Linked DNA regions of Homo sapiens. The protein of the gene in region 1 interacts with the protein of each later gene in a pairwise test. Each region holds a gene or a part of one and is shown on either strand. Other genes may lie near its edges. The genes, in order: UBXN2B, UBXN6, MEOX2, CRX, MEOX1 and PAX6.

The links.
Region 2: the proteins of UBXN2B (region 1) and UBXN6 interact in binary tests that used the Homo sapiens proteins (3 or more experiments, as listed by UniProt).
Region 3: the proteins of UBXN2B (region 1) and MEOX2 interact in a two-hybrid assay, tested with the Homo sapiens proteins (one large-scale study listed by BioGRID).
Region 4: the proteins of UBXN2B (region 1) and CRX interact in binary tests that used the Homo sapiens proteins (3 or more experiments, as listed by UniProt).
Region 5: the proteins of UBXN2B (region 1) and MEOX1 interact in binary tests that used the Homo sapiens proteins (3 or more experiments, as listed by UniProt).
Region 6: the proteins of UBXN2B (region 1) and PAX6 interact in binary tests that used the Homo sapiens proteins (3 or more experiments, as listed by UniProt).

What each region holds. Positions count from the first base shown.
Region 1 is NC_000008.11:58,444,910-58,450,509, reverse strand, and holds part of UBXN2B (UBX domain-containing protein 2B), read right to left. Parts: intron 4,604-5,600; coding exon 4,442-4,603; intron 3,122-4,441; coding exon 2,959-3,121; 3' UTR 1-2,958. UniProt on the Homo sapiens protein: Adapter protein required for Golgi and endoplasmic reticulum biogenesis. Involved in Golgi and endoplasmic reticulum maintenance during interphase and in their reassembly at the end of mitosis.
Region 2 is NC_000019.10:4,446,511-4,452,110, reverse strand, and holds part of UBXN6 (UBX domain-containing protein 6), read left to right. Parts: intron 1-1,280; exon of another isoform or gene 1,281-3,695; coding exon 3,696-3,793; exon of another isoform or gene 3,794-4,485; coding exon 4,486-4,561; exon of another isoform or gene 4,562-4,923; coding exon of another isoform or gene 4,924-5,006; exon of another isoform or gene 5,007-5,190; coding exon 5,191-5,275; exon of another isoform or gene 5,276-5,391; coding exon 5,392-5,600. UniProt on the Homo sapiens protein: May negatively regulate the ATPase activity of VCP, an ATP-driven segregase that associates with different cofactors to control a wide variety of cellular processes.
Region 3 is NC_000007.14:15,609,767-15,614,838, forward strand, and holds the end of MEOX2 (homeobox protein MOX-2), read right to left. Parts: intron 2,846-5,072; coding exon 2,621-2,845; 3' UTR 1,446-2,620; downstream 1-1,445. UniProt on the Homo sapiens protein: Mesodermal transcription factor that plays a key role in somitogenesis and somitogenesis and limb muscle differentiation. Required during limb development for normal appendicular muscle formation and for the normal regulation of myogenic genes.
Region 4 is NC_000019.10:47,824,067-47,829,666, reverse strand, and holds part of CRX (cone-rod homeobox protein), read right to left. Parts: intron 1-5,600. UniProt on the Homo sapiens protein: Transcription factor that binds and transactivates the sequence 5'-TAATC[CA]-3' which is found upstream of several photoreceptor-specific genes, including the opsin genes.
Region 5 is NC_000017.11:43,641,370-43,645,986, forward strand, and holds part of MEOX1 (homeobox protein MOX-1), read right to left. Parts: intron 2,292-4,617; coding exon 2,119-2,291; coding exon of another isoform or gene 2,108-2,118; intron 664-2,107; coding exon 541-663; 3' UTR 1-540. UniProt on the Homo sapiens protein: Mesodermal transcription factor that plays a key role in somitogenesis and is specifically required for sclerotome development. Required for maintenance of the sclerotome polarity and formation of the cranio-cervical joints.
Region 6 is NC_000011.10:31,791,138-31,794,322, reverse strand, and holds part of PAX6 (paired box protein Pax-6), read left to right. Parts: intron 1-208; coding exon 209-291; intron 292-520; coding exon 521-671; intron 672-769; coding exon 770-885; coding exon of another isoform or gene 886-1,059; exon of another isoform or gene 1,060-1,118; intron 1,119-3,185. UniProt on the Homo sapiens protein: Transcription factor with important functions in the development of the eye, nose, central nervous system and pancreas. Required for the differentiation of pancreatic islet alpha cells.

The DNA.
Region 1 (5,600 bases):
ATTGCCATAGAATATCTAAATCATCATGAATAGACTGTTGGTAAAAAATGAGGAATATGTTACTGGAGAAGTGGAGGAAAGGAGTCCTTGTTACATAGTGGCGAAAAGCTAAGCTGAGTTGTGTCCTGCCGTTATGTGTAAAGCAGAACTTTTAAGTGATGACTTCAATATTTAGCTGAGGATATTTCCAAGCAAGCTGTGGAAGGTACAGCCTGCTGTCTTCTTGCTGATTATAGTAAAATGTGGAAAGAGGTAGATTGAGGGAAGACCTGTTAAATATAAAGAAACCAGGACTTGATGATTTGGGAAATTCGCGGCCTATTCAAATGGCAAAAGCCACTAAAACTAAGATTCACCGTCAGGACAGCCTTTACTCTAGAGAAAGTGATGAAGATATGGCTGTATAACCTTTTGCTAATACTTCAGAAACATCAAAAGGTCTGAATATCAGGTCACACACAAGACTCTTTGAAGATATTAAGGGTGTGAATCATAGATCCTCTCAGCTATTTCAGAAAAAGCCAAAAACAGAGACAGGATTTTCCAGGAAAGATACGTGAGGAGCCTCCTATCTAAATGAGTGCATCCCTGTGACATATGTAAAAGACCCACAAGTTTCTTGACAACGTTATAGCAGCAGAAGCACCACCATTTTTAACAGAAAGCTTTAGAGAATATAAAAGAAGAACAAACTGATAAGTTGATACTCAGCTGCAAACGTGTGCTACCTTTTGTGAAAAAGTAAAGATGACTCTGAGACAGTCAACAAGCCCAGAGAACAGCAGTGAGCTGAAGATTACTCCCAGGCCTTGAAACTTAAAGAAGGGTGCCTCGCTGGTTTTGTAAATTGATTGGTGCTGATGGCTCCTTTTTCCATCTGTTTCTGCTTTTTGAACAGGAACGTGTGTAACTATTATTGTCTGCCTGTCATGCCATCATACTTGGGAACAGATAACTTGTTTTCTAGGTTCACAAGTGCACAGTTGGAATTATGTCCCAGAAATCACACACAGATCCTCTCCCAAACTTAATTTAGATGGCTTCAATGTGAGATTTGAGACTTTTGAGTTGGTGAGACTCAGATAAGATTTTGGATTTAGAGTTGATGCTGTAATAATGGATTGTGACTTTTGAGCACCTATGAGTGATGTAAATTTATTTGTGATGAATCTGAATCTTTAACACAGGAGTGGAGCGGGGGGTGGGTGGGAACTGTAGTAGGCAAGAATAATGTTCCATGTAAAATGTTAATGTCCTAATCTCCAAACCTGTATGTAACCTTAGATGGTAAAAGAGATTTTGCAGATGTAATTAAGGTTACTATGGATTTCAAGACAAGGAGATAAGCCTAGATTGGATATCCGGTGGGCCTCATTTAATCATGAGTCCTGCAGAGAACCTCTCCACACTGGTGTCAGAGAGATGTGGTAACAGAAGGGTCATAGAGATGAAACAGCACTGGTTTTTAAGATGGAAGAAGGAGGTCACAAGCCAAGGAATGAGGATGTCCTGTAGAAGGTGGAATGACAAGGAAATGATTCTCCTGTAGAGCCTCCTAACAGAATGCAACCCTGCCAACAAATTGATCTTGGCACCGCGAAACTCTTAACCTGGACTCCTAACCTACAGAATTGTGAAGATAATAAATTTGTGCTATTTTAAGCCACATTTTGTAACTTGTTATGGTGGCAATGGAAAACTAACCAGAAGTAATAATTAAGGATGAAATGGTGTCTAGGAAGAAGGAAAAGCTTCTGGCTTCAGCAGAAATGCAAACATTTATGCTGGTAATTCTTTAGATCTAGTCCGTCTGACAGAATTTACATTCCTGTATTTCTACACTAGTCTTGTTCTGGAGAAGACATTCTAGGTTGAGCACACAGAATAGTGTTTAGTGTATACAGTGAGTTTCCTAGAAAAATGTGTTGAATGAATAAATGAATGTGATCAACGCAAGCTCTGGGAGGAACTGTAATTACTTGATTTTAAAATATTGTTGCTGTTTACCATATCTTCTTAAGAACTGCTGACCTTTAGGCTGGGCGTGGTGGCTCATGCCTGTAATCCCAGCACTTTGGGAGGCTGAGGTGGGTGGATCACCTGAGGTTCGGAGTTCGAGACCAGCCTGATCAACACAGAGAAACGCTGTCTCTAGCAAAAGTACAAAAATTAGCCAGGCATGGTGGCGCATGCCTGTAATCCCAGCTACTTGGGAGGCTAAGGCAGGAGAATCTTTTGAACCTGGGAGGCGGAGGTTGCGGTGAGCAGAAATTATGCCATTGCACTCCAGCCTGGGCAACAAGAGCAAAACTCCATATCAAAAAAAAAAAAAAAAAGAATTGCTGACCTTTATGTGTTTCTGTTTAAGTTCACAACAGTCATAATTCTGTAAAATACAAGGCAAAACTGTAGTTTCTGATACTAGTAATATATCTAAATCAGTAAGTAAAAAGGATGTGTAAAATCTTAATAGGAGAAATAATTATTGTATGATCAAACAATTTCAAAATCAAAAGACACGTTTCAGTATATATTATAGACAAATTTTCAACTTATTTGATCAAAAGATTTCTTAATGGCTGTTGGTCAATGCTGCATCAAGAAACTTTAGTGCAAATTTTACCAAATGCATTTATCAAAAAGGGGTTTTGTTCATTTTTCTCTGCAAACAAATGTTGTTACATTAACACTAAGCATGTAACAACTCATTTGCCTAGAAATCCAAAAACTATCAACATAAGCCAGTCCTTCAACTAAAAACTCAAACATACTTATCTCAAGGTCTATTCCTAATCCAAATTTGTCTATATTCAGATTGGAAGACAGAATAACAATAAAACCAAAATTTATCTGTAAAAATAATAAAAATAATTTGGCTGTTTTTAATGCTGAAGTATTGTCCTTATTAATACGGCACATCATCTATTCCCACATGCTACTGCATGGACAGGAACAATATTATTTTAGTTGCTGGAGTAACACAGTGTTAAGAATATCTGCTTCTAGCAGTGTCAGGCTTTCATCTGTTAGCTCTTTATTCGGAAATGAAGTCACAAGAATAAAGTCAAGAGCCGCAAATTCAGGACGAGACTGTACAATAAAGTTCCGGACATCCAGGATCCTGAAGAAATAAGACAAAAATAATTTGTAATATAAAAAATCATATTTTCATGTAAACTTAAAACTGAATCATAATAAAAATCACAAAATTTTAATCTTTATATAAAGGTGTTGTAACTTTCTTTAATATATAGTATTTCAATTGAAGGATTTATCTTAGGCTTCAGTTAAAATGTAAAGTAACTTTAGTGTGTACTTAACATTTACTTTTCCTGTAAAATGGAAACAATCTTCAGGTAAGTTATGAATAAAGTAAGTGTACTAATGTTGTTATTTTAAAAGTGCAGGTCCAGCTGGGCACGGTGGCTTACGCCTGTAATTCCAGCACTTTGGGAGGCAGAGGTGGGCAGATCACTTGAGGCCAGGAGTTCAAGATTAGCCTGGCTAACACGGTGAAAACCCCGTCTCTACTAAAACCAGAAAAAATTAGCTGGGCATGGTGGTGGCTGTCTGTAATCCCAGCTACTCAAGAGGCTGAGCATGAGAATTGCTTGAATCTGGAAGGCGGAGTTTGTAGTGGGCTGAGATTCCGCCACTGCACTCCAGCCTGGGAGACAGAGTAAGACTCTGTCTCAAAAAAAAAAAAAAAAAAAAAAAAAAAAAAAAAAAATGCAGGTTGTACTTTTTTCGGAGTATAAAATGTGTTAGCAGCATATGACCCAGAAAAAGGTAACTATGATTGGCCTGTGGCAAGGTGAGTCTAAAACTATGAAATGTGCTATCATAGGAATAATTTTAAAAAATTACTCTCACATAAACATAGTAATTCAACCAAAATCATAAATATATCTATTAGGGTCTTACTTCAATGGACAAATCAAATGTTGATGTACAAGTCAATATTAAAGAAACATTTAAAACTATCTGAAGTTCTTGACAAAAGTACAATTAAACTTGATTTACAATACACATTTATATTATGAAGTATTTGCTATACAGAAAATTAATCCCAATCAAAATTATCACAAATTTTTAAATGAATAAAGTCCCCAAAAGGTTTTACTATGTTAAATTAAATCTGATTCGACTTCATATAGTTTTAGTAACAACGTAAAACTATAGTTCTTAATTTATTTTTGTGTGATATCTGAGATCACATTAGTATTTGGATAGTTTATAGAGACTGTTTAAATACCACATATTTCATTTCTTAAACACAGCTATTGTCCTTTTAAAAATGTTTCTTCTGTCAAAAACTTACTTCAAAAGTAAACCTAAAGAATATCATATTCTTCATTACTCAAGTCACATACAGTTCTACTTAGATAAGCAATCCAGTGTATATAACAGCAAACAGGACACTGTTGGTAAAGAAGCTTACCTGTGTGTACTATTGAATCTTTGTATCAAACGACTCCCATCTGCTAACCTGATTTGAATTTTTGTTGTTGGCACTGAATCATCAATAAGAACAACTGCATTAAGTATTGATTTATCCTCCTCTTCTGGAGAGGAAGGTGTACTGACTATTTCAGGTGTAAGGCTAAAAAAGAGGAATTAAACACAAATCTGAATGTGTAAAATATATGACAAACTGAAGACAGCGATAAACACTTAGAACATGGCTTCATTTGAGTCTCCTATACTTCTTTCAACCTCTTTCATTATATTAAAGTTATTTTGGATCCTACGATTCTTATTTGGTTTATCTAATCTCTCATAAAAGCCTAACTTTGCATCCTTTCCTCATTTAACTGTTTGCAACTTCATCACTGTTTAGCAAACCAGTTTTATTTAGAAATACGAGCAACTCTGAGTTAGGGTCAAAGAATCATTAAGAGCACAGACAGACATGGTTTCACATCCCAGCCATGTCAACTGTGTAAAGTTGAGTAAGTACATCAATCATTTTGAATCCCAGTTCTATCATTTATAAAGTGAGGGAATAATACTATGTTATGAAGGTATATTATACCAGTAAGTCCTTAATATTGTGCCTAGAACACAGTGTTTCAACGGGTGCCAGCTATTGTGAACATATTATCAGCACTAAATTCATTTAATTTGGACTTGGTTAATATCATTTAAACACATCTGATTCAAGCACTGCTTTGCAAAAGAGAAATAACTTCTAAGTACCATTGAGGAATAAAATGTTATTACATGACAATAAATTCATAATGAAGCTTGATAGAATATCTTACCATTAGAACTTGGTTACTAGTGACCCTGGCATTGCTGTCTTAGCCCCTTCTAACACTAGCAGGATGATCAGCCAGTATATGCCAAAAGTGAATGTCAAAAATAGAGGAGTGCTCTTTTGGTTAAATAATTCAAATAAATTTAGCTCAATTTTCTCAGTCATCTTAAGGAATTTTTGATAGTCTTGAAGTTTTTTCTCTTGAACTCTGAGATTTAGATGGTTTCCTATAGATTATTTTCTTCTGGAAGAAAGACACGCATGTATCTACATATTACTAGTATAAAAGTTCTATGAGCATTTGGGCTTTAGTCCAATCTAAATCATCATGACTCTTACT
Region 2 (5,600 bases), on another chromosome or scaffold:
GTGGCGCATTCTCGGCTCACTACAACCTCCGCCTCCTGGATTCAAACGATTCTCGTGCCTCAGCCTCTCAAGTAGCTGGGATTACAGGCACCTGCCACCATGCCTGGCTAATTTTTGTATTTTTAGTAGAGATGGGGTTTCACCATGTTGGCCAGGCTGGTCTCGAACTTTTGCCTCAAGTGATCAACCCGCCTCAGCCTCCCAAAGTGCTAGGATTACAGACGTGAGCCACCACGCGTGGCCTGGTTGTTTTTCATAAAAGGTTAAGTATTATTTGCTTCAATACAGAAAGAACTTCCTACAAAATTAGCCAGGCATGGTGGCACATGCCTGTAATCCCAGCTACTCGGGAGGCTGAGGCAAGAGAATTGCTTGAATCCAGGAGGCAGAGGTTGTGGTGAGCCGAGATAGCGCCATTGCACTCCAACCTGGGCAACAAGAGCAAAACTCCATCTCAAAAAATAAAAACGTCCACAGCATTTTTTTCCAATACAGCAAGTCCTCACTTAACACCATCAATAGGTTCTCAGAAACTTCGGCTTTAGCCTGGGCAACATGGCAAAACCCTGTCTCTGCCAAAAACAAAAAAAAATAGCTGGGCATGGTGGCGTGCACCTGCAGTCCCTGCTACTCAGAAGGCTGAGGTGGGAGGATTGCTTCAGCCTGGGAGGTAGAGGCTGCAGTGAGCTGTAATCATGCCACTGCACACCAGCCTGGGTGACAAGTGAGACCCTTTCTCAGAAAATAGTAAGTGGCTGGGCGCGGTGGCTCTTGCCTGTAATTCCAGTGCTTTGGGAGGCTGAGGCAGGTGGATCACCTGAGGTCAGAAGTTCCAAGACCAGCCTGGTCAACATAGTGAAACCCCCTATCTACTAAATATACAAAAATTAGCCAGGCGTGGTGACAGGCGCCTGTAATCCCAGCTACTCAGGAGACTGAGGCAGGAGAATCGCTTGAACCTGGGAGGTGGAGGTTGCAGTGAGCCCAGATCACGCCATTGAGCTCCAGCGTGGACACTGGGTGACAAGAGCGAAACTTCATCTTAAAAACAAAACAAAACAAAATAGTAATAGTTCCATAGACTCTCCAGACTCACACCCACTCCAGCAGTGTGTGCAAAAGCACCCGTGTCCCCATCCTCTCACCATACTGTAAATCACCAAACTTTGATCTTTACGCCTGTTGGTAGGTGAAAATAACATCTCAGGATAGAGTTAATTTGCACTTTCCTTATTTTGGATTGGCCATGTTTCATATGAGAATGCGTCCTTTCTACATTATTTAGTAGATAGTTTGTCTTTTTATTAGTGATTTGTAGGCACTCTTTTTTTTTTTTTTTTTTTTTTTTTTTTGAGACAGAGTCTCGCTCTGTCGCCCAGGCTGGAGTGCAGTGGCGCCATCTCTGCTCACTGCAAGCTCCGCCTACGAGGTTCACACCATTCTCCTGCCTCAGCCTCCCGAGTAGCTGGGACCACAGGCGAACCGCCACCACGCCCAGCTGATTCTTTGTATTTTTAGTAGAGACGGGGTTTCACCATGTTAGCCAGGATGGTCTCGATCTCCTGACCTCGTGATCCGCCCGCCTCGGCCTCCCAAAGTGCTGGGATTACAGGCGGGAGCCACCGTGCCCGGCAGCACTCTTTACATATTAGGCAATTTAGGCTTTTGCCTATGATATGAGTTGCACATGTTTCCCTCTAGTTGCTTCTATGTTGGCTCTGCTTATGGTCACTTTGCTGTGTAGGATTTTTTGATCTCTGTATAATTAAATGTGTCAGTTTTAGTTCATGGCTTTTGGGTTTGGGGTCATTCTTAGAAATGCCTTCCCCATTTCCATGCTGAGAGAATTCTTTTGTGGCCTCTCCAGTGCTTTTTTTTTTTTTTTTTTTGAGACAGAGTCTTGCTGTCACCAGGCTGGAGTGCAGTGGTGCAATCTCAGCTCACTGCAACCTCTGCTTCCCGGGTTCAAGCAATTCACCTGCCTCAGCCTCCCAAGTAGCTGGGACTACAGGTGCACGCCACCACACCCGGGCTAACTTTTGTATTTTAGAGATGAGGTTTCACCATGTTGGCCGGGATGGTCTCGCTCTCCTAATCTCGTGATCCGACCGCCTCGGCCTCCCAAAGTGCTGGGATTCCAGGCATGAGCCACCGTGCCCGGCCTCCAGAGCTTTTCTTCTGGCTTCTCCTTGACTGCTTGCTTGTTTCCATGGTTGAAGCTTTGATCCAGCTGGAGCATGTTATTATGTAACATGGTGGGATGGAGCTGATGTAATTTTTTTTTTAGATCTTGGCTCAGCTTTCTTCTCAGCCCCACCTGTCGAGAGCACCTGTCTTTTGCTTACAGCTGTGAAATCCCACCTTTCTCACAAAGTACATTCCTGTATGGATTTGGACCCCTTCCTGGCTGCTGTTCCTTCGTCCCTTGTCTGTGCATGTACCCAGCTCCTGACCTAAGCCTGGCAGCCAGTCGCCCAAAACGCCCGAGGCCCGCTTTTGGAGCTGACACGCTTCCCTTGGCTGGTGTGCTGTCCCGGGCGCTCTGATCCCAAGGAAGCTGTTGTCTTGGGGACATGCCCATCTGGCAGCTCTGCCTCTCTGCATCCACGTGCTCTGTCCCGCTCCCCACATCATCTCAGCAACTAAACCGGCAGACTGGGCCGGGTCCCAATTTTCAGTTGGCATGAGCCCCGGCTCAGTGTGTAGGTCATTGGTCCGTGTGACGCAGGGGGCTGCTGAGGGACCCTGCTGTGCAGTTGAGGGTGGGGGGTGGTGGGTGGAGCTCTGGGCTGCCTGGGCAGGTGGCCCGAATCCTGACACATGGCCCTGGGCTGCCCTTCTGTTCACCCGCCCTCGTCTGGGCAGCCCAGGGAGGTGCGGGTGGCAGCCCTGCTTCCCAGGCCATGGGTGGCTCTCTGGGTGTGGCCGTGTGTGATGGCTGTGCCGAGCGTGGATTTGTGCCCCAATCTTTTCCAGGTCTTAGGGTACGTACTGTTCTCAGCCTCTCCATGCTGGGACGCTGTTCGCAGTCAGCAGGGCTGGTTCTGGGAAACCCCCAGAGTTCCAGCTATGACTTCTCCCCTCCCCCGGTAACATAGGTGGATAGGTGGGACCTCGGGGAGGGGCAGGGGCTGGGGGTATCCGTCTTCCAGCTATTGAGTTTCAGACATTGAGGGTTGCAGACTCATTTGTGTCCTCTCTGCCACCTGCCATCCCTGTGACCCTGGACGATGGGCCTCTCGGTCTCTTTGTAAACATGAGGCCCGGGAGTGGTTCCAGAACGTCCATCATGGGGCTGCGAGAGCAGGAGGGATGGGGCGTCCATGGTGGCGGGAGGTTCTGTAAGTGGCGGTGGCCTTGATGGATCTCAGCACTGAGGTCGAGTTCTAAAGCCAGAGTGTGAGGCACAGTTCTGTCGCGTCACACTGGCTTCCAAGTCCCATGGATCTAGCCTTGAGAAGGCGGAAGGGGAGACTTGAGTTCTGCTGGGTCTTGGCTGCGTCGCCTCTGCCCTGGGGCGTGGGCAGGGCTGCGGTCTTGGAGGGTCTCTCTTTTCCTTTCTGTGATGAGCGCACAGCTGGGGCCGCTCCAAGCCGCTGTTCTGCCTTCCTTTTCCTGCCCCTGTTACCTGGGCAGCGGAGGGCCGTGCGGCCCGGGCTCTCAGTGAGTGGCTTTCCCTGCTTCCCTCCTCCCAGCACTTCTCCACCGACCCAGTGGCCGCCTCCATCATGAAGATCTACACGTTCAACAAAGACCAGGACCGGGTGAAGCTGGGTGTGGACACCATTGCCAAGTGAGCGTGTGGCCCCTTTGCCCTGCCTGGCCCCTCCAGCTCATCCCAGCACCCCTCCCACTGGGGCTGTCACCCCCTCTGGCCCCCTCATTACCTGCTGAGGTGGGTTGGGAAGGAGCATAGGCCGAGAGTGAGGCAGCTCCACCCAGAGGCCTCAGGCAAAGGGCTGGGCCTCCTTGGGCCTCAGTTTACCCGTGTGCAAAATGAAGGTGTTGAAGGAATCAGGGGTTTCCCACCCTGGCTTCCTTGGGGAACATGTGGAGGAGGCAGGGTCCCACCCCACTCCCCGGGTCTCAGGATCGGGGGCAGGCCTGGAGGTCCACGCTGCCCGCCAACGCCGAGGGAGCACCCCGCAGGAGCCCCCTGCTGGCACTGCGGCCCTTCAGCTCTGGCTCTCCACTCTTCCGGCACTGTGGCTTCCCCACCGCTGTGGTTAATTGTGCCCTTCCAGGGCTGGTGGGACGGTGAGGGGTTCCGTGGGGCTCCTGCTGGCACCAGGGGTGGGCTCCATGGGGTGTCCGAGGTGTGCCTTCCACCCGGAGATGGTCTGCTGCCCTCGCGTCACTGGGCCGCTTCTTCCCTCTGACTAGAGGCCAAGTGTGGCTGAGCTGCTGTTACCTGGAGCAGGAGGCACAGAGGGGCCGGGTGGGCAGCCTGGGCTGTGCCCCACTCACCTTCTCCACCTACCCCAGGTACCTGGACAACATCCACCTGCACCCCGAGGAGGAGAAGTACCGGAAGATCAAGCTGCAGAACAAGGTGTTTCAGGTGGGCGTGCCTTCTGGCCCCCGGGGCCCAGGCTGGGGGTGGGGGCAGCTGGCCTGCAGGAGCCGGTGGTGGCCCACACCAGGCGGTGGGCTCCCTGGAGGAGCTAGCGAGAGTTGAGCCACAAGCAGTGAAGGGTTCGGCCAGTAGAAGGTAGCAGGACAAGATGGAGAGCAAGACTTTTATGCACCGGTCACCCCAAATCAACAAATTCTGCCTCTCCTCACCTGCATCCTTTTCCTCCTCTTCAGCTGGGCTTGTTTGGGAACATGTCGACTCTGGGGAGGTTTCTCATGCAAACCAGATGTCTGGTTCTTCTGGGGGAAAGGGCAGGGACTGGGGTCCTGGGCGGTGTTAGCCTCGCATCAGGCCCCAGCAGTGTCTGGCTCCTCAGCCTCACTCTTCGTGCCTGGTTGTGACTCTTTCCTCTGTGCAGAGCTGTTGGAGACTCCACAGCCCCCACCGTAGAAAAGCAGGTTTGCATCCAGCACTGAGGCACCCCCAGGGCTGGGCCCCATCCAGGGGTCGACAGCTGCTCCCAATAGCGAGAGCCGGGCCCCTGGACTGGGTGGGGTGTGGCCAGGCCATGGAGGAAGCCAGGGGCCCCCAGTGACGCCCATCTCCACCCCCAGGAGCGCATTAACTGCCTGGAAGGGACCCACGAGTTTTTTGAGGCCATTGGGTTCCAGAAGGTGTTGCTTCCCGCCCAGGATCAGGGTAAGTGGACAGGGCCTGGCTGAGTAGGGAATGGGGACGAGGGGCCTCGGGGCAGGAGGGCCCGGCTTGGGGGTCTCTCCATTGCACAGTGACACCCATGTCCTGCCACGCTGTAGAGGACCCCGAGGAGTTCTACGTGCTGAGCGAGACCACCTTGGCCCAGCCCCAGAGCCTGGAGAGGCACAAGGAACAGCTGCTGGCTGCGGAGCCCGTGCGCGCCAAGCTGGACAGGCAGCGCCGCGTCTTCCAGCCCTCGCCCCTGGCCTCGCAGTTCGAACTGCCTGGGGACTTCTTCAACCTCACAGCAGAGGAGATCAAGCGGGAG
Region 3 (5,072 bases), on another chromosome or scaffold:
GTTGACAATGTGATAATGTGTCAGGTGTCTTATGCGGCAGGCAGATCATTTTAATTCATCATAAAGAAAGTGATGTCTCTTTTCAGTCAGCCATGTGGCCTTTCCTACCACTTTGTGTTCTCTGGATCAAATTTCATTTCAGGATTGCTTACAATTCTCTAATAAAGATATGGCCATGATACAAAAACCTCCCATTTCCCGAATGTTATATCTATTCGGAATCCCTTTTTCCTATTTCATTTTCTTACTACATTGGAATTCTTACGTCTATTTGGCTACAACCATTAGCTCTCCTTTTAGCTACTTCTAAGGGGTCCTTTTCTCTTATTTCTGGAAATTATTTTCCTGCCCAAATGAATTATCCTCCACTTTGTCCCTATTGAACTCAATTTGATTCATATCTTCCCACTTCACTAATTTGTCAAGATGTTTTGAATTTAAATCCTCTTCTACAGTAAGAAAGTCAGTCCACCCAAGTAGATGTCATCAGCACAAGCAGACTTTGTATTAATTCAGGTGATTAATGGAAAAGTGTCTGTTTCATGCCTGGGAGACCTCAATTCGAATGGTCTATTCTCAGTTAATTTTAAAATACTGACAACTACTGAGGTAAAATGTATTACATGAAAGGAAAATGTGATACAAAAAAATTATTTATTTCTGGGATACTCTCTATATATCACGCTAGATTAAGTTAAAATATATCAAATTAATTTTTGTCAGTCTGATCATTCTAAAGCAAGTGTAATCAATTAACTGATGGGTTTTTGGAAATTTTTACTGATTGTTTTTCTGTATTTGTTTCGGATTGAGGCAGGGGAGGAAGGCTGGCAATGTTTCCAAGCATTTCTGCTTAGAATATGAAACAAATGAAAAACAATGTGATAAAGCTATAAGTAGGACTAAGGCACCCCATGCGTGTGCAATCATGCATGATGCAAAATACATTATGTTAATAGCATCCTTTACTTCTTGCATTAGTCCCATTAGAACTGAGGACTCTGATTAGCTTCTTTAGCTTATATTTCACATCAGAGACTCTGCATATTCAGACTATAAAACCACTGTTGGATTAACTTACATATATCAGACATAACTTTAAAAATGTATGACTATTTTATTTTCCTCACTGTGGTGAATACTATTATTTAATACTTTTTTCCTACTTTTATCTGTGGCTTCATAAAACACACAAAAAAATCCATTCACTGTATTCTTCAAATTAGAGAAATAGCTTAATATATGCCCATTCTTAGGCGCCCTTTGATTACACAAGGATTTATTTTTTTCCTGCCATAATAAAAAAATTCAGAAATGAAAAAATGTAAATAATCCACTAATTATAATCATCTGGATTTGCACAAGTGCAGATAGATTTGAGACTTTGTTAATCATTGATATTGAAATCTATAAAAATTAAGAAAATTAATGTAGGGAGACCAAAGTTATTTACAAAGGATCATTTATTAAACACATTTTAAAAACAAAATACAAAGATAGTTGTTCTGCATGAATACATCACATATGAAAAAATAATGTGTTTTTACCGAATTTAATTTGAAGATATTCAGAATTTTGTTTTCTATCAACTTGAGCAACCAGTTTCGCTTTGCACCTTGTCTAACACTGTTGTCAATCAGGAAGAAATGTTTTCTTGTTAATTAAATCATATTCATACAGCTAATATTTTACAGAAATAAAATAAGACAATGTCTGTCATACAAAGCTCTTTCTGCAAGGTAACTGATTTGCCTATGATCCTAATTGTTTTAAGCTATAAGATAGGAAGAATTCAGGAGCTAGGTAAGTTTTATAATAACGTATTAGCAGCAGTTGATAGTAAATGCAACATAAGATTTGTTTTGTCTGTGGTACAAGAATATGTCCTATCAGACTCTACTGTATTTTTCTCTACTTGAACACAGGTAAGCACATACTGATTGTCTCTGGGATGACAAAATGTATAAAAAAGACAAGAAACTGGCTCTGGTTGTCATTGTGAGTGCCTATTTTCATCAGCTAATATGAATGCATTGCTAAATTAGTGAAGACAGGAAAATGACTTAAGGGTAATATATACAGAGTTAAAATACACTTTTTATCCACTTGAGTGAATTCAGGCACTGTGGCTGTTCAGGATAAAATGTTTCATGGTTTATTCTTGATAGCAATTTAATTTTCAGTGCAAGCAAAAGCAAATACCTGCCCACTGTAATACACATGATCTCACACATCTGGAATGTTCAATGCAAGTTCATCCTCGGCATCTTCACTCTGGAGACATCTTGAATAAAAAACCGTTCATAGTTTGCTCTTGATAGCAATTTAATTTTCAGTGCAAGCAAAAGCAAACACATACCTGCTCACTGCCATACGCACGACCAAACACATCTGGAATATTCAAAGCAAGTTCACCTTCTCCATCTTCACTGTGGAAGCTCTTTAATAAGTGGCACTTTGTGTAAACCCTCTATAAATCATGAAAAACAGATTCGAAATGCCTGGATTTAATAATATTAAACATCACTGCCATAGTCATCTCTCTGTGTAAACGATATTTGGGTAAGGCTTGCCATCACAACATTTCTTTCCTGAGAATGGAGCTGGTCCTCTGTTTATATCATAAGTGCGCATGCTCTGAGCTGTGGTCACTGTCGTGACTGTCTTCATTTGCTATAGAGTCCCCTGTTTGCTGGAGGGTGGCTGCACCAATTCCCGACAGCTCTGATGGGAGAAGTGTTCCCTTTTTCACATTCACCAGTTCCTTTTCCCGAGCCGCAGCTCCTTGCTGTCCACCCTTTACCCTCTTCCACTTCATCCGCCTGTTTTGGAACCAGACTTTCACCTTCAACCAAGAAAGGGAACAAACAAACAGAAAAAAAGAGATAATTAAAGTGACATTTTTTTCTCCTTAGTGTCATCAATGAAAAGAAGTTCCTCAAAGGCTTATACAAAGACACCATGAAGGAGTGAATAGAAAAATAAATCCACGTTGAATTTAATCAGGTTACATGTTCATGATAATAATTTTTAAAGTTTCAAAAGGTGCATACAAAGTACTATATTTGTATTTTACAGCATACAATGTAAAATATGGAACTAAACAAAAACTTTGTCATTTAAGGCACTCAAAGCACTTGCGTCTATAAAGAGCTTCTGTGAATTGGAGCTAACATAATATTTGTGTTGGTCAAAGCCCCCCACTCCTAAGTTCTTCTTTGATTTGACATCCAGCTGTCATTTCCTGAACCAATTTAAAACATGCTCCTGCAGCTACTGATTAAGCGGCATCTGAAAGGCCATACTCTGCCATCAGAAACTACTGCTGCTTTCACAAATCTTTATTTGACCATTCCACCTCACACTGAGCCTATCTTCTTTTGAACTCTTCTTTTTATTTTCTACCTTAATTCATTTATTTTACTTTGCAAATATTTGATCTAGTGATTTCTTTAAAATATGGTCACAATAAAAAATTCTCAACATTTGTTAAATGCTAACACCAAGATTATATACTACATCATTCACATCAGCTTTGTACAGGTATTTTCTTTTTAAAAGCTTCATTGAATTTGCCTAATACATTTAAATAAATATATATATTTAAATAACATATATGTATTAAAAACAAAAAAAACAGCAAACAGACATTAAAGGTCTATACATTATCAGAACTAGAATATAATTGGCATTATTGCATCTTGTTTAGGAGGAAATCTGTTTCTTTCACATTGCATTTCTCATAATTATAGCTTCTAGCAAGCAAAGTGTTCTTTTTACATTGTATTTCTCTGTCTACCCCACCTAAAAGTACCACAAGCCTGAATTTTGTGTGTCACCTCCAAGTCTTTCTTAAAAAAGAAAACAAATTTTTTTCATAACAAGTAATATTAAAACTATACTCTTTAATTTTATTTGTTTGTTAGGTTTATCAATGGAATGTTCCTAAGTGTAGGCTTTTTGCCACATCTTTGTTGATTCAAAAGACTCTATTTATTTATTTTTTATCATTGTATAATATTCCAAATTCTGTCAATATAGCACCATTTTTCTGTTCTACCATCCATGGATATTTGAATTCTTTTTTTTCTATATGTAATGCTGCTATAGACATTCTTGCATTTGTGTCCTGATAAGCATATCATGGGAACTTCCCTGGAGACTGCAGTTATATGGCTGCTGCTATCTATCTTCTCTCAATGTATGCTGTTTCTTTTTCCTTTTCTTAGAGTGTCTTTTGATGATTAGAAACTCTTAATATTAATTAATATGTTTAAATTTATCTATTGTTTCTTTTATGACTAGTGTTTTGTGTTTTCTTTTTCTAAAAAAATCTATTTTCTGAAGCCAGTAAGATATTCTATTGTGTCTTCTTCTAAGAGTTTTAAAGGTTGCCTTTTCCAACACAGTGGGACCCTGTCTCTACAAATAAATAGATAAAATAAAATAAAATAAAATAAAATAAAATAAAATAAAATAAAATAAAATAAAATAAAATTAGGTGGGTGGGATGGCATAGTGCCTGTAGTCCCAGCTTCTCAGGAGGCTAGGGTTGGAGGATTGCTTGAGCCCAAGTGGTTGAGGTTGCAGTCAGTGGTTGTTGCACCACTGCACTCCAGCCTGGGCAACAGAGCAAGATCCTGTCTCAAAAAGAAAAAAAAAGTTTGCCTTTCAAACTGAGGTACTTAATCAATGAAGTACTGATTTTAGTATATAGTCTGAAGAATAGGCTTAACTTTACTTTATTTTAAATGGATAACACATTGTCCCAGGTCCATTTATTAAATAACCCAGCTTTTTTCCAGTGATCACTGTTTCATCTGTGTTCATAAATCAAGTTTCCATATATGCATAGCTTTATTGCTGTATTCTGTTCTGTTCCTTTATTAATTTTTCTATAGTTTTGATAAAACCACATTATCTTATTAATTATAATTTTATAATAAACCTTTATATTTGCTAGGGATAGTTCTGTTTCATTCTTCTACGTTAGAAATATTTTGAATATTCTCTATTTTCAGTTTAGAAATAATTTCAATTTCTGTAAATAGTGCTATGGAGACAGTGAAGAA
Region 4 (5,600 bases), on another chromosome or scaffold:
TAGAGGAAGACCTTGTCTCAATAATAACAATAAATAGGCCAGGTGCAGTTGCTCACGCCTGTAATGCCAGCACTTTGGGAGGCCGAGGCAGATGGATCACCTGAGGTCAAGAGTTCAAGACCAGCCTGGCCAACATGGCAAAACCCTGTCTCTACTAAAAATACAAAATTAGGCAGGCGTGGTGGTGGGCGCCTGTAATCCCAGCTACTCCAGAGGCTGAGGCAGGAGAATCACTTGAACCCGGGAGGCAGAGGTTGCAGTGAGCCGAGATCACGCCATTGCACTCCAGCCTGGGCAACAAGAGCGAAACTCCATCTCAAAAAAAGAGTCATAATAATAAAGTAAATTTAAAAATAAAAATACAATAAAATAAAAATACAAAAATTAGCCAGGCATGGTGGTGCATGCCTGTAATCCCAGCTACTTGGGAAGCGGAGGCAGGAGACCCTCTGGAACCTGGGAGGTGGAGGTTGCAGTGAGCCGAGATTATGCCAGTGCACTCCAGCCTGGGAGGCAGAGTGAGACTCCATCTCAAAAATAATAAGTATTATAATTATGAATTAATAAACAAAATGAGGCATTGATTTTACTCATGTGTAGAATATACACTTGTATATGCGTAGAAAATTCCCAGGAAGGAAGCAAGCTACTGGCACCAGTGACTGCCTCTGGGAAGGAATGCTAAAGCCATATCTTGTCTCTATAGTTTGGATTACTTTTTAATTGTGTGTGTGTGTGTGTGTGTGTGTGTGTGTGTGTGTGTGTGTGTGTGTTCTTGTCAAAAGCAAAAACAACAATAAAATCTTCAAAAAAGCAAACAGAACATGAAAACCCTCTGAGGGTTCCTCATTGCCCTCATTAGGATGGACTCAGAAAACCTCTCACCCTCCACAGCTATTTGCATAAGCCGTTTCCTGGGCTAGGAACGCCTCTCCCCCACCCCAAAGCCCCTCTCACCAGCTAACCCCTTCTCCTCCACGTCTCAGCTCAGCTACTTTCCCCAGAGAAAGCAACCTACGCCCCTAAACTGGATTTTACACACACACACACACGCTCCCTACCTCCTTTTCTTCAAGACACAGCTTGTATTAAACGACATATTTATATGTTTGTTTATCTATCTCTCTCCCTCAAATTCTATCAGTTACCTGAGTTCAGGGACTGGTAATATCTCGGTTCCTGCCATGTCCCCAGCACCCCCAATAAATATTTGAAACATAAGAAAAAGAATTAAAAATGGATGGTGTTTATTGTGAGCTCCCACTCTTCCGTTCCTCTCACTGTCCTTTCCTTCTCATCCCTCACATGAGGAGGGGGACAGATTCTGTTTATTTTAAGTTGAGATTCTACTGTTCATTCAGTAAATATTTTTTGAATGCCTTCCCTGCTCTAGGAACTAGGAATATAGGAAGAAATAAGACCGCAGCTTCTCTGTTCTCATAGAATTGAACTTCTTGGTTCCGTTCCTAGAGAAACCAATAACAAACAAGGAAAAAAAAATTTTTTTTTTTTGAGATGAAGTCTCACTCTTGTCCCCCAGGCTGGAGTGCAATGGCTTGATCTCGGCTCACTGCAGCCTCTGCCTCCCAGGGTCAAGTGATTCTCCTGCCTCAGCCTCCCAAGTAGCTGAGACTACAGGGGCCTGCCACCATACCTGGCTAATTTTTGTATTTTTAGTAGAGATGGGGTTTCACCATGTTGGCCAGGCTGGTCTCGAACTCCTGACCTCATGTGATCCACCCGCCTCGGCCTCCCAAAGTGCTGGGATTACAGGCGTGAGCCACCACGCCCTGCCTTTTTTTTTTTTTTTTTTTTTTTTTTTTTTTTTTTAATAAAGATGCCATGGCCAGGAGCAGGGGCTCTTGCCTGTAATCCCAACACTTTGGGAGGCTGAGTTATGAGGATCACTTGAGGTCAGGAGTTTGAGATCAGCCTGGCCAACATGGTGAAACCCCATCTCTACTAAAATACAAAAATTAGCCAGACATGATGATGGGTGCCTGTAATCCCAACTACTTGAGAATCGCTTGAACCCGGGAGGCGGAGGTTGCAGTGAGCTGAGATGGCACTACTGCACTCCAGCCTGGGCAACAGAGCAAGACTCTGTCAAAAAAAAAAAAAAAAAAAAAGCCTTCAGAAAGTTTCAAGAACTCCCAGGAAAATAAAACAGGTTGTTATGAGAGTGAAGGCATTTGGGGTGGGTGAGGCATCTAGGAATTTGTGTGGATCTGGAATAGAGATTTCCAGGCAAAAAAAAAAAATTAAAAAAACAGCAGGTGCAAAGGCTTGGAGGCTGGAATCTCACACCGTCACCCTGAGCAAGACAGGGTCTCCAACTTGGTCTTGTTGGAGAAGAAACAAGGCACCCTGTGTGACCATAGCAGATTGATCATGGAGAAAAGCAGAAAGAACAAGTAAAACCTGGTAGGAATGTCACGAGAAGGCTCAGTGCTGACAATAAAATCAAAAGCAGCTACATTAAATCCCCAAAATCAAACTGCCTCCAAGGTAACTCCCAATAATCCTTACCCCCTGATATTCATGCCCTGTGTAGTCCCTACTAACAAGCTGGCTGACGTGTGTAACCAACAGGATATTGCAGAAATGACAGAGCGTGGCTTCCAAGGCTAGCTCTAAGGAAAGCCAGCCGCCATGTTGTGAGGATGCTCAAGCCATCCCACGGAGAGGTCTATGTGGCAAAGAAATGAGGCCTCCTGCCAACAGCTATGAGAGTAAGCTACCATGGAGGTTAGTTCCCCAGCCTCAGCCAAGCCATTAAGTGACTTCAGTCCTGGCCGACATCTGACCACAACCACATGGAACACCCTGAGCCGGAATAATCCAGTTAAGCCACTCTTGGATTCCTGTCCCTTGGAAACTATAAGAGATCAGAAATGTTTATTGTTTGAAGCTGCTCAATTTTAGGATAAGTGTTACCCAGCAATAGTTAACTAATACACAAGCCTTCTCTATACAGGTAGTCATTAAATCCCCAGCACAACCTTGGGAGGTAGAGACTGTATTACTATGATGCTTACATTTTGGTTTTGGTTTTGGTCTTAGGGACAGCATGTCACTCTGTCACCCAGGCTGGAGTGCAGTGGCACAATCATAGCTCACTGCAGCCTCGACCTCCTGAGCTCAAGCCATCCTCCCACCTCAGCCTCCCAAGTAGCTGGGACTACAGGTGTGCCACAACGCCTAGCTAATTTTTTAAATTTTTGTGTAGAGAGAGGTGTCTTGCCATGTTGCCCAGGCTGGTCTTGAACTCCTGGCCTGAGCAGATCCTCCTGCCTCAGCCTCCCAAATTGCTGAGATTACAGGCATGAGACACTGCTTTTGCCTGATGCTTACAGTTTAGAGAACATCTTCAGGCTCGAAAGTGTGACTTACCCGGGATCACACACAGGCTGGCAGTGGAGAATCCAGGATTTCAAGGCTAGAGTAATTCCTGAAGGTCCTATTCCCCCAGCCCCCTAACCTGGGTTCCCTCTGTCCTCTCCCACTTCTCCAAAAACCAATAATGTTAAATATGAACCTCCAGAGAGTGGAGACAAGGAAACTGGTGAACCTGCCCCACTGGGGACCATTTGCAGGGCCTGGAACAAAAGCACACACTTTCATTGTCTTCGCCGTCAAATCTGAGTCAGATTGCCTGGCTAAGCAGTTAACCTTCCAGGAAAGCCAAGAAAGCTCACATTTACGATCACCACTTTCTGGGTTTTTGTTTTTGTTGTTGTTGTTATTTTGAGACGGAGTCTCTGTCACCCATGCTGGAGTGCAGTGGCGCAATCTTGGCTCACTGCAACCTCCACCTCCCGGATTCAAGCGATTCTTCTGCCTCAGCCTCCCAACCTGGGACAACAGGCATGTGCCATCATGCCTGGCTAATTTTTTTTTTGTATTTTTAGTAGAGATTGGGTTTCTCCATGTTGGCCAGGCTGGTCTCAAACTTCTGACCTCAGGTGATCCGCCCACCTCGGCCTCCCTAAGTGCTGGAATCACAGGCGTGGGCCACAGTGCCTGGCCAGGATCATCCCTTTTAACGGATAGGGGAGAGGAGGCTCAGCAGGAGGAAAGTGTGGGCCCCAGATCAAACAGCTGATAATAATGATAAAGTGCTGCCTAGACAAGATGTCAGCAGAGAATAATAACAATAATAATATTGAACATCCACTGAAATCTTTCCCTGGGTTTGGCAGCAACCTGAGGCAGCTGATGACAGAAGGGCCTCCAGTGAGGGCTGGGCGTGGTGGCACGTACCTGTAATCCCAGCACTCTGGGAGGCTGAGGTGGGAAGATCGCTTGAGCCCAGGAGTTGGAGGCTGCAGTGAGCTATGATCCAGCCACTGCACTCCAGCCTGGGCAACAGAGCAAGATCCTCTCTCAAAACAAAACAAAACAGGCCAGGCCAGTGGCTCAGCACTTTGGGAGGCTGAAGCAGGCGGATCACTTGAGGTCAGGAGTTCAAGGCCAGCCTGGCCAACGTGGTGAAACCCCGTCTACTAAAAATACAAAAATTAGCCGGGCATGGTGTTGTCCCAGCTTCTGGGGAGGCTGAGGTACAAAAATCTCTTGAACTCGGGAGGCGGAGGCTGCAGTGAGCTGAGATTGCACCACTGCATTCCAACCTGGGCGACAGAGCACGACTCCATCCCAAAAAAAAAAAAAAAAAATCAATCAATCGAAAGAGGACCTGTCTCCTGGGGAGGAAAAAAAAAAAAGAATGTCCAGGAATTCATCACTCGGCAGACACTTGGCCCAGGCTTTATATACAAGATCTCACAATGACAACAATTTCCAGACACTGATGTTTTATGATTTCAAGGGGTGGAACAAAGAATATCAGTGTCTCTGCCCTGGGGATCAACCTGGGAGGCCCCAGGCTGATTCTCAGAGCTGTGGGGTTCGGCACTCACTGGGTCCCAGGTTCCCAGCTGAGCAGTTGTTCCCACAGGTGAGGTCTGAATGCTCACAGCCACCTGGTGGGGCAGACATGCAGATAACTCCATTCTACAGCGGGGGAGACTGAGCCTGGGAGGGAGGGAGGTGCCCACAGTTCAGGTGGCTGATGACCTTAAGGACCTCCAGGGGGCCCCAGCTTCTCACACACTGCATGCACCATGGACCTTGGGAACAAGATCTCAGGCAACAGTAACTCCATGGAAACTTCCTCCCAGGCGGCTTCTGGTATCATCCCCACTTTACAGAGAAGGAAACTGAGGCTGAGAGAAGTGTAGTCTCCAGTTCTGTCTCGCACGTCAGCGGCAGAGCCAGAGCTGGGCCAGCACCTGCCCCGGAGCCGGTGCCCTCCTGATCACCCGGCGATATGGCCTCTTAGGATGCTCCCCACAGCCCCACGGAGCTCAGAGGTCCCTTTCTCAGAGGAGGAAACTGAGGCTGAAAGAGGTTTCGTCAATTCCCGAGGTCACACAGGTGATGAGTGGAAGAACCAGGGGTAAAATTTAAATCTCTTTGGCCCCCGAGCCCCGCTCTTCACCCCCAAGTCTACCTAGGGACCCTAGAAACAGAATGAGGCTGGTCTCCTGCCCTGCTCCCACTGCAGGCCAGGCCTGCAATATGGCTCATCTGGCTGGATC
Region 5 (4,617 bases), on another chromosome or scaffold:
TTTTCTTGGGGTTTCGGGACAACTAAGGGGCCCCAAAGCCTCAGATGTGCAGCCTACAGAGGAAGGTGGGCAAGGGCGTGTGTCTCTGTCATTTCCTTCCTTTTGAAGCATTTACTTTCCGAGTCGCCAGCTGGTTCCAAAGCTCCTCTCCCACCAGGCCAGGTGGTGTCCAGACCAGGAGGAGGCCTGGCTGACCTAGGAGAACAGCGGTAGGAGGAGGCATGGGTGGCAGCCAAGAGACGCTGAGAAGCAGTATCTCTGAAGCTGTTTCCAGATTCATCCGGCCCGGTAGGATCTCTGTCTGATTCCATGAGAGTGTGGGAGCAAAGGCCCTAGGGAAGAGGCTGCTAAGAGGCTGGACAGAACTTCCTAGAAAATCCTAAGACTCCCAGGAATGCTGGGCAGTTTCATATCCAAGAGTCAGGGAAAGATGTGGAGAGGCTGCCCTGGCTGGGGAAGGAAGAGGGTGAAGGTGGGATTGGGGTGGGGGTAGTTGGGTAGGGGGCTCAGTCCTTAGTCATTTTTCCTCCATGCAGAATCTCACTCTGAACTTGGAGAGGCTGTGGAGTCCCCATCCTCAGGGTCCTGCCCATTGGGGGAGATGGGCTGACCTCCCTTCACACGCTTCCACTTCATCCTTCGGTTCTGGAACCACACTTTGACCTGGGGGAGGAAGCAAAGGAGCCTGGTCACTCCAGGGCCGGTGTGACCTCCTCCCCATGTCAATGCTTAGGCTAGCCAGGGTGTAACTCCAGGGACCCCAGCTTGAAACCATCACTTACCACTCCCTACTCCCTCAAAGGCCCCAGGAACTAGGACCGAAGAGAGGACATACCAATCTGCCCAGAGGTCTGTCTTGTGGCTTCGGATAAAGCCCCAGACGGGGGAACATGTTCTAAAAGCACTCTGCATTGGCCCCACCCCCTTCACATGCCCTGCCCTGCCTGTGCCAGGTCCCCCTGCCCCCTACCTCCATTCCCCAAGGGTCTGGGAGCAGAGGTCATCAGCCTTATCCTTAGGCACATTTATAGAGCACTTTTTGGTTTAGATAGCTCTGGTAAGCACATTTTCTCATCTGAGCTTGAGTATTACCTGCAGGATTATGATCCCATTTTACAGATGGAGACCCAGAGGTCCCAGGGCTAGGAAAAGTGATAGAGGCAGGATTTGAATCTAAGTCTTCTGATTCAATATCCAGCCCTCTGGCAGAGTGCTCTGTCAACTGAAATCTGCTATCAAATATTACGGTTATTATTACTATTATTCCGTATCAGAGCATGGGTGTGGGGGTGTGGGGTGGCTGAAGGGAAAGTCCAAAACAAAGGGCCAGGGAAGTTTTTCTCAAAGTGTGCCCAGGAACCAGCTGCATATCCAGATCACCTGGAGAATGTACTAGAAATACAGATTCTCAGGCCCACTCATTATGGTAAAATCTCTCTCCGGACCTCCAGAATCCACATTTTGAACAAGTGCCTTGGGGGATTCCAACATATACTCAAATTTGGGAATAGCCAGACCGTAGGTCCCAACCTAGCTGCATGTGAGAATCACCTAGGGGGCCTTTGAAAAATTCTGAGGCCTGTATCCCATCCTAGGCCAATTAAAATCATCCCTAGGGGTGGAGCCCAGACATCAGCACTATTAAAATCTCCCCAGGGGCCGGGCGCAGTGGCTCACGCCTGTAATCCCAGCACTTTGGGAGGCCGAGGCGGGCGGATCACCTGAGGTCAGGAGTTTGAGACCATCCTGGCCAACATGGTGAAACCCCGCCTCTACTAAAAAAAAAAACAAAAATTAGCCGGGCGTGGTGGCGCACGCCAGTAGCCCAGCTACTTGGGAGGCTAAGGCAGGAGAATTGCTTGAACCCAGGAGGTGGAGGTTACAGTAAGATCGCGCCACTGCACTCCAGCCTGGGCGACAGAACGAGACTCCGTCTCAAAAAACAAAAAACAAAAAAACCCAAAACTCCCCAGGCTATTCTCAGGTGTGGCCACAGTTGAAAACCGCTGGACTGGCTGGAGGAAGAAAAAGGAGAAGGTCCAGGGAGGGGTGGTGGGAAAGGAGGGAAGGGAGGGAGATGAGAGAGCAAAGAAGAGGAGGGGCCCACCGGGGGCGCACCTGGCGCTCAGAGAGGTCCAGGTTTACCGCAATCTCATATCTGCGGAGCCGAGTCAGGTAGTTATGATGGGCAAACTCTGCCTCCAGCTCTCGCAGCTGCTCCTTGGTGAAGGCCGTCCTCTCCTTGCGGGCTTTGCTGCTGCCCTCCGGCTTCCCTCTGTTCTCCTGGTTGTCTGGGGAGAGAGGACCCCAAACAGGAAGACATGGGCTGAGGGAGACTCCATTCCCTTTCTTTTGCCCTTGAGCAACTAGGCAGTCTTTACCAGTCTCCCTTATTTTTACAGGATGCTGAGAAAAAAGCTACACTGTCCTTTTTATTCCTTCTGGTGTCTTACCCATATTAGAATTGGGAAGATTTTTTATTTTTGGTTTCCAATCTCAGGTACCTGCCTCCCACCCTCCCCCCACCCCAAACTTTCTTTTATTCCCAAAGCATAAGAAGCTACTCTTGGCTGTTTAATGACCTCTACTCCCCAGCCCACCCCCCAGCATGACATTACTGGTGGCCATAAGCTTGAGGGGTGAGATGCTCTAAAACAAAGCCTCAAACTATGGTCCCCAGATCAGCAGCATCAGCATTACCTGAGAGCTTGTTACAAATGCAAATCCTAGCCTCATTCCAGACCTACTAAGTCAGAAACTCTGGGGATGGCACTCAGCAATCTATTTTTACAAACCCTCCAGATGCGTCTGGTGCACAGTCAAGTCCGCTGCTCTAAGACCTCACCACTCAAAGGAGTGCCTGGGTGCCAGCAGCATCAGTAGCACCAGGGAGCTGTTCAGACCTGAAGGATCTCAGGCCTGCCCCAGACCTACCTACGGAATCAGAATCTGCCCCAGAGGGCCAAGTCTGGAAAGCCATCTGGAGCCCTCTGAAGCAGGCTGCATGTTAGATTCAGCGGGGCTCAGTCATAACTGCCAACAGGGTCAGGGGACACACTCTGTGCCAGGTGCTGTACCTGACATATATTAGCCTCTTATTCCTCAATAGCCCAACCAAGTGGTTCTAGTATTAGTATCACTTTATGGACCAGAAAACGAACACAGAGAAGTTAAGCAAATTGCCCAAGTTTATTCAGCCAGGGGGTGTGGGAGACAAGAATTAAATTCAGGCGATTTGACACACACATACTGTTCAAATGAAAAGTATGTAGGGGCCAGGCGCGGTGGCTCATCCCAGCACTTTGGGAGGCCAAGGCGGGCGGATCACGAGGTCAGGAGCTCGAGACCAGCCTGGCCAACATGGCGAAACCCCCGTCTCTACTAAAAATACAAAAAATTAGCTGGGCGCGGTGGCACGCCCCTGTAATCCCAACTACTTGGGAGGCTGAGGCAGGAGAATCGCTTGAACCCAGGAGGCGGAGGCTACAGTGAGCGGAGATCACGCCATTGCACTCCAGCCTGGGCGACAGAGCAAGACTACGTCTTGAAAAAAAAATTTAGGAAGGGCTTACAAACGGTAAAGTCCTGAACAAATAAAAGGGGCTGAATGGTTATCTCTTGAGCAGACGGGTGGGAGGCAGCTCTACCTTCACTTTAATGAATGGAGGTGGTGGGTGGAGAGGAGGTGGGAAGAAGACCACACACTTACACAATTAACTCGCAATGCATGCCACGTGGCCAGGGAATGGCTGCAGGAGCCCGGGGCTCTAACATTTAAAAGACGTTTGCTTCATTAATTATCTTTTTTTTTTTTTTTTTTTTTTTGAGATGGAGTCTCGCTCTGTCGCCAAGGCTAGAGTGCAGTGGTGCGATCTCGGCTCACTGCAAGCTCCGCCTCCCGGGTTCACACCATTCTCCTGCCTCCGCCTCCCGAGTAGCTGGGACTACAGGCGCCCGCCACCACGCCCGGCAAATTTTTTTGTATTTTTAGTAGAGACGACGTTTCACTGTGATAGCCAGGATGATCTCGATCTCCTGACCTCGTGATCTGCCCGCCTTGGCCTCCCAAAGTGCTGGGATTACAGGCGTGAGCCACTGCGCCCGGTCCATTTTCCTCATTTTATAGACATGGAGGCTGTGGCTCCGAGTGAGGTGCTTTACCGAAACCTGCGGCCCAACGTCCTGCTCCCTGAAAGACCCATCTCTGCCTTGCCGGCGAGGAGTGTTGGAAGGAGGGATCTTCTGTTTTCAGAGGCCGGGTCTAAGCTACCTGGGGGACTGGGCTGGGGAATTCAGACCCCCTAGTGTAAAGCAGAGAAGCCGCCTATGCAGTCGGCTAAGCAGCCGCATTGGGAGTGGGTGGCGAGGCAGGAACCCCACATTAACCCGGCGATCCACTTTGGAGCTTTGAGCCTAGCTGGTTCCCCTCCCAGCACCCCCCTCTATTGCTTTCCACTCAATCCCTTTGTATTTCAGTTTCCCCGTCCTCCGCCTCCGCGCCCCACTGCCTTGGGCTGGGCGACTCTCTAGCAGGAGGCGCACGGTAAAGTGATTTGGGCGCCTGGCCCACCTCGCGCTGCGCGTCCGTGGCCTCCGCCGGGGGATGGAAGGGGAGTG
Region 6 (3,185 bases), on another chromosome or scaffold:
AGAAAGGTCACTGAATGCCATTCCAAAGAAAATTTAACTTGGTTCTGGTGGGAAAGTTCTTCCAAGTACAGTCAACACTAGAAGCATTTTAAAGGGAATTGGTTGGAGGTAATGGGAGTGGGGAGGTGGGAACCAGTTTGATGCACAGTTTGGTCAACATATTTTGTGTAGTTCTGGCACAATATGGAAAATCAACTTACTCTTTCAGAGTTTGAGAGAACCCATTATCCAGATGTGTTTGCCCGAGAAAGACTAGCAGCCAAAATAGATCTACCTGAAGCAAGAATACAGGTACCGAGAGACTGTGCAGTTTCACACTTTGTGATTCATACCATTTGTCTTTCCTAGAGACAGAGGTGCTTGTACAGAGTACTATTTATTTATAGGACTAATATAATAAAAAGGTTCAGTCTGCTAAATGCTCTGCTGCCATGGGCGTGGGGAGGGCAGCAGTGGAGGTGCCAAGGTGGGGCTGGGCTCGACGTAGACACAGTGCTAACCTGTCCCACCTGATTTCCAGGTATGGTTTTCTAATCGAAGGGCCAAATGGAGAAGAGAAGAAAAACTGAGGAATCAGAGAAGACAGGCCAGCAACACACCTAGTCATATTCCTATCAGCAGTAGTTTCAGCACCAGTGTCTACCAACCAATTCCACAACCCACCACACCGGGTAATTTGAAATACTAATACTACGAATCAATGTCTTTAAACCTGTTTGCTCCGGGCTCTGACTCTCACTCTGACTACTGTCATTTCTCTTGCCCTCAGTTTCCTCCTTCACATCTGGCTCCATGTTGGGCCGAACAGACACAGCCCTCACAAACACCTACAGCGCTCTGCCGCCTATGCCCAGCTTCACCATGGCAAATAACCTGCCTATGCAAGTAAGTGCGGCTGGTGGTGGCCTGCATAACCCAGGCCCCAGAGAAGTGAGGAGTGGCTCAGGGCCTGCGGACCTCATTGGCTGTGTCTGCACCCTTGAGAGCTTTTCGCACTACAGTGATTGGCTTGACCAGTCAAGTCGGAGACAGTCAATCCCATCACTTTTAAGTGATTGACTCATTAATTCATGCCCTAAAAAAATGAGTAATAAAAATCTGTCCAGTTTTGTCAGGTTGATCTGCCTTTTATTATACTGTTACCTTGATAATGTTGGGTGGTGGTGGGGCATGTTTTGGGTACCAGGGAGCCTTGCACCAGAAAGTGGAAATAATGCTGGCACATTATCAGATAGCAGATTAGTAGTTTAAAATTTGGGTTTATATTAATGTGTTTGTATGCTAAATATAGAATCTGTGCACGCATTTGGGGCATTACTTTGGGTATATGTGATAAACTAGTGAGAAAGAAAAAAGGATCAGAAATGGGATTCATATTTACATGGTGAGATATACATAATATAATGAGAATGCTAGTTTTCTGTCTGTATCTACAATAAGAAAAGGCATAGCAGGTATTTGCTGGAAATTTAGTGTGTCTTTGCTGTGAATGGTGTGACGAGTTTGTGGCCCTCCTAGCTGCCTGGGAAGCTTGATGCTATTCACTTGGTATGACAGCCTGCCTCTCCTCTTAGTTCTGTCCCAAATATCTATTAGCCCCTACATTTAGAGGTCCTGCACTAGGTTCACCCTTTATGATGTAAGTTGGATAAGGCAGATGGTTTGTACTAGACCTTTGTTGCTGGATGGATTCTTGATAGGAAAAATGTCTGTCTTCTGGTAGGCCTTTCCCAGTGGTTTTCCTAGAACTCCTGTTTGTGCAACAATTAGAGATATTAGATGGTACGATATTGGCCAGCATGAGCCTCTGCTGGAAACAGTTCTGGGGCTACACTGATTGTTTATTCTCCATTGAACATTTTTTGCTGGATTTCAAATCCAAATAACAGCAAAATAAATGTTTCACAGTCTTCAGACTAATATAGGAGCAGCTAGATAAGCAACTTCAGAGGAATTATTCACATGTTTATTTTTATTGCATCTGGATATTGTTGGCCATAGTGCAATTGATGTAAATTAAGGGATTAACAGCCCATTAGTTGGTGTTGCTATAACTGCGTTGGAATTTTCCAGAAGTCAGGTTGCCTAGAGGAACTCATTGCAGGAATTAGAAACAAATGCAAGCTGAAATTCTGGCAGGCCCTCAAGGCCTGTTTGCCTCTTTGAACTTGATGTTAGCATTCATCATCTGACTTTAATAAGGCCACAGAGTGTCTCGTTCAGTTTCATGTATTATAACAACATCCAGGTTTCTGTGAAGATAGCAAAATGTGTATGTGAGAAAATAATAAGACGAACAAGTAGATGCTGCAATTATATTAGGGCTGTTTCCACATACAGAGCGGTATGGGGAATCAATCTATTTCAAACACTGACTTTTAAAAATTACATAATTTGTATAATTCAAAAAGTACATGCATTCATTAAGCATAAAGAAAATCAAAATGATCAATAACTTTACTCTTCAGAGAAAACTACTCTTTGAATTTTGGAGTGGGTGAGCCCGATTGTCTATCCATTTATTCATTCTCTTGACCAAAATCATCATTTTACAAATGGTGGGTGTCTTCCTCTGGACCTTCTCTGATATGCTTCCCTCTCTGAGCATATGGATTTTGGAAATTAAACATTTCTCCAGTTTGCAGAGAAGAGAAATGATAGTATACTGTACTATCATCTGACCTGCTTGTTCCCGACACACTTCTTTTAATTCATCCCAAGTTTGCTGCCATGGCATAGTACCATGAGAGCTCATGAGGCGTTTTGTTAGGAGAAAGGTTTACCTCCTCAGTGCTGCCATTCCGAACAGTTCGAGGGTAGCAACAGTTTTCTAGTTATAAGTCAGTCTGGGCTTTTGGGTCTGTTAGGAAGTCATGGTTAATTCTCAGGATGGAGGTCGTTATATTTACTAACACTTCTGATCACTTTAACTTGGGGTCATTACAGATCTGCTTCTTCAAAGAATCTTTAATCCCATCAGTGAAAGGTTCCCAAGGTCCCTGAACCATACTTTACTGAGAGCTCCTCCCACTGCTCTCTGTCCCAAAGCTTGAGATATGGGCTCTGGGGGTCATAGGGTTCCCAAATAAATCCAGATTTGCAGGGAGAGGGGATGTGTTTTGATGAAGGTCCTCATGCTATAGGTTCTTCAAAGATGCTAGCAGAGGTTAGAGACAAAAATCCTA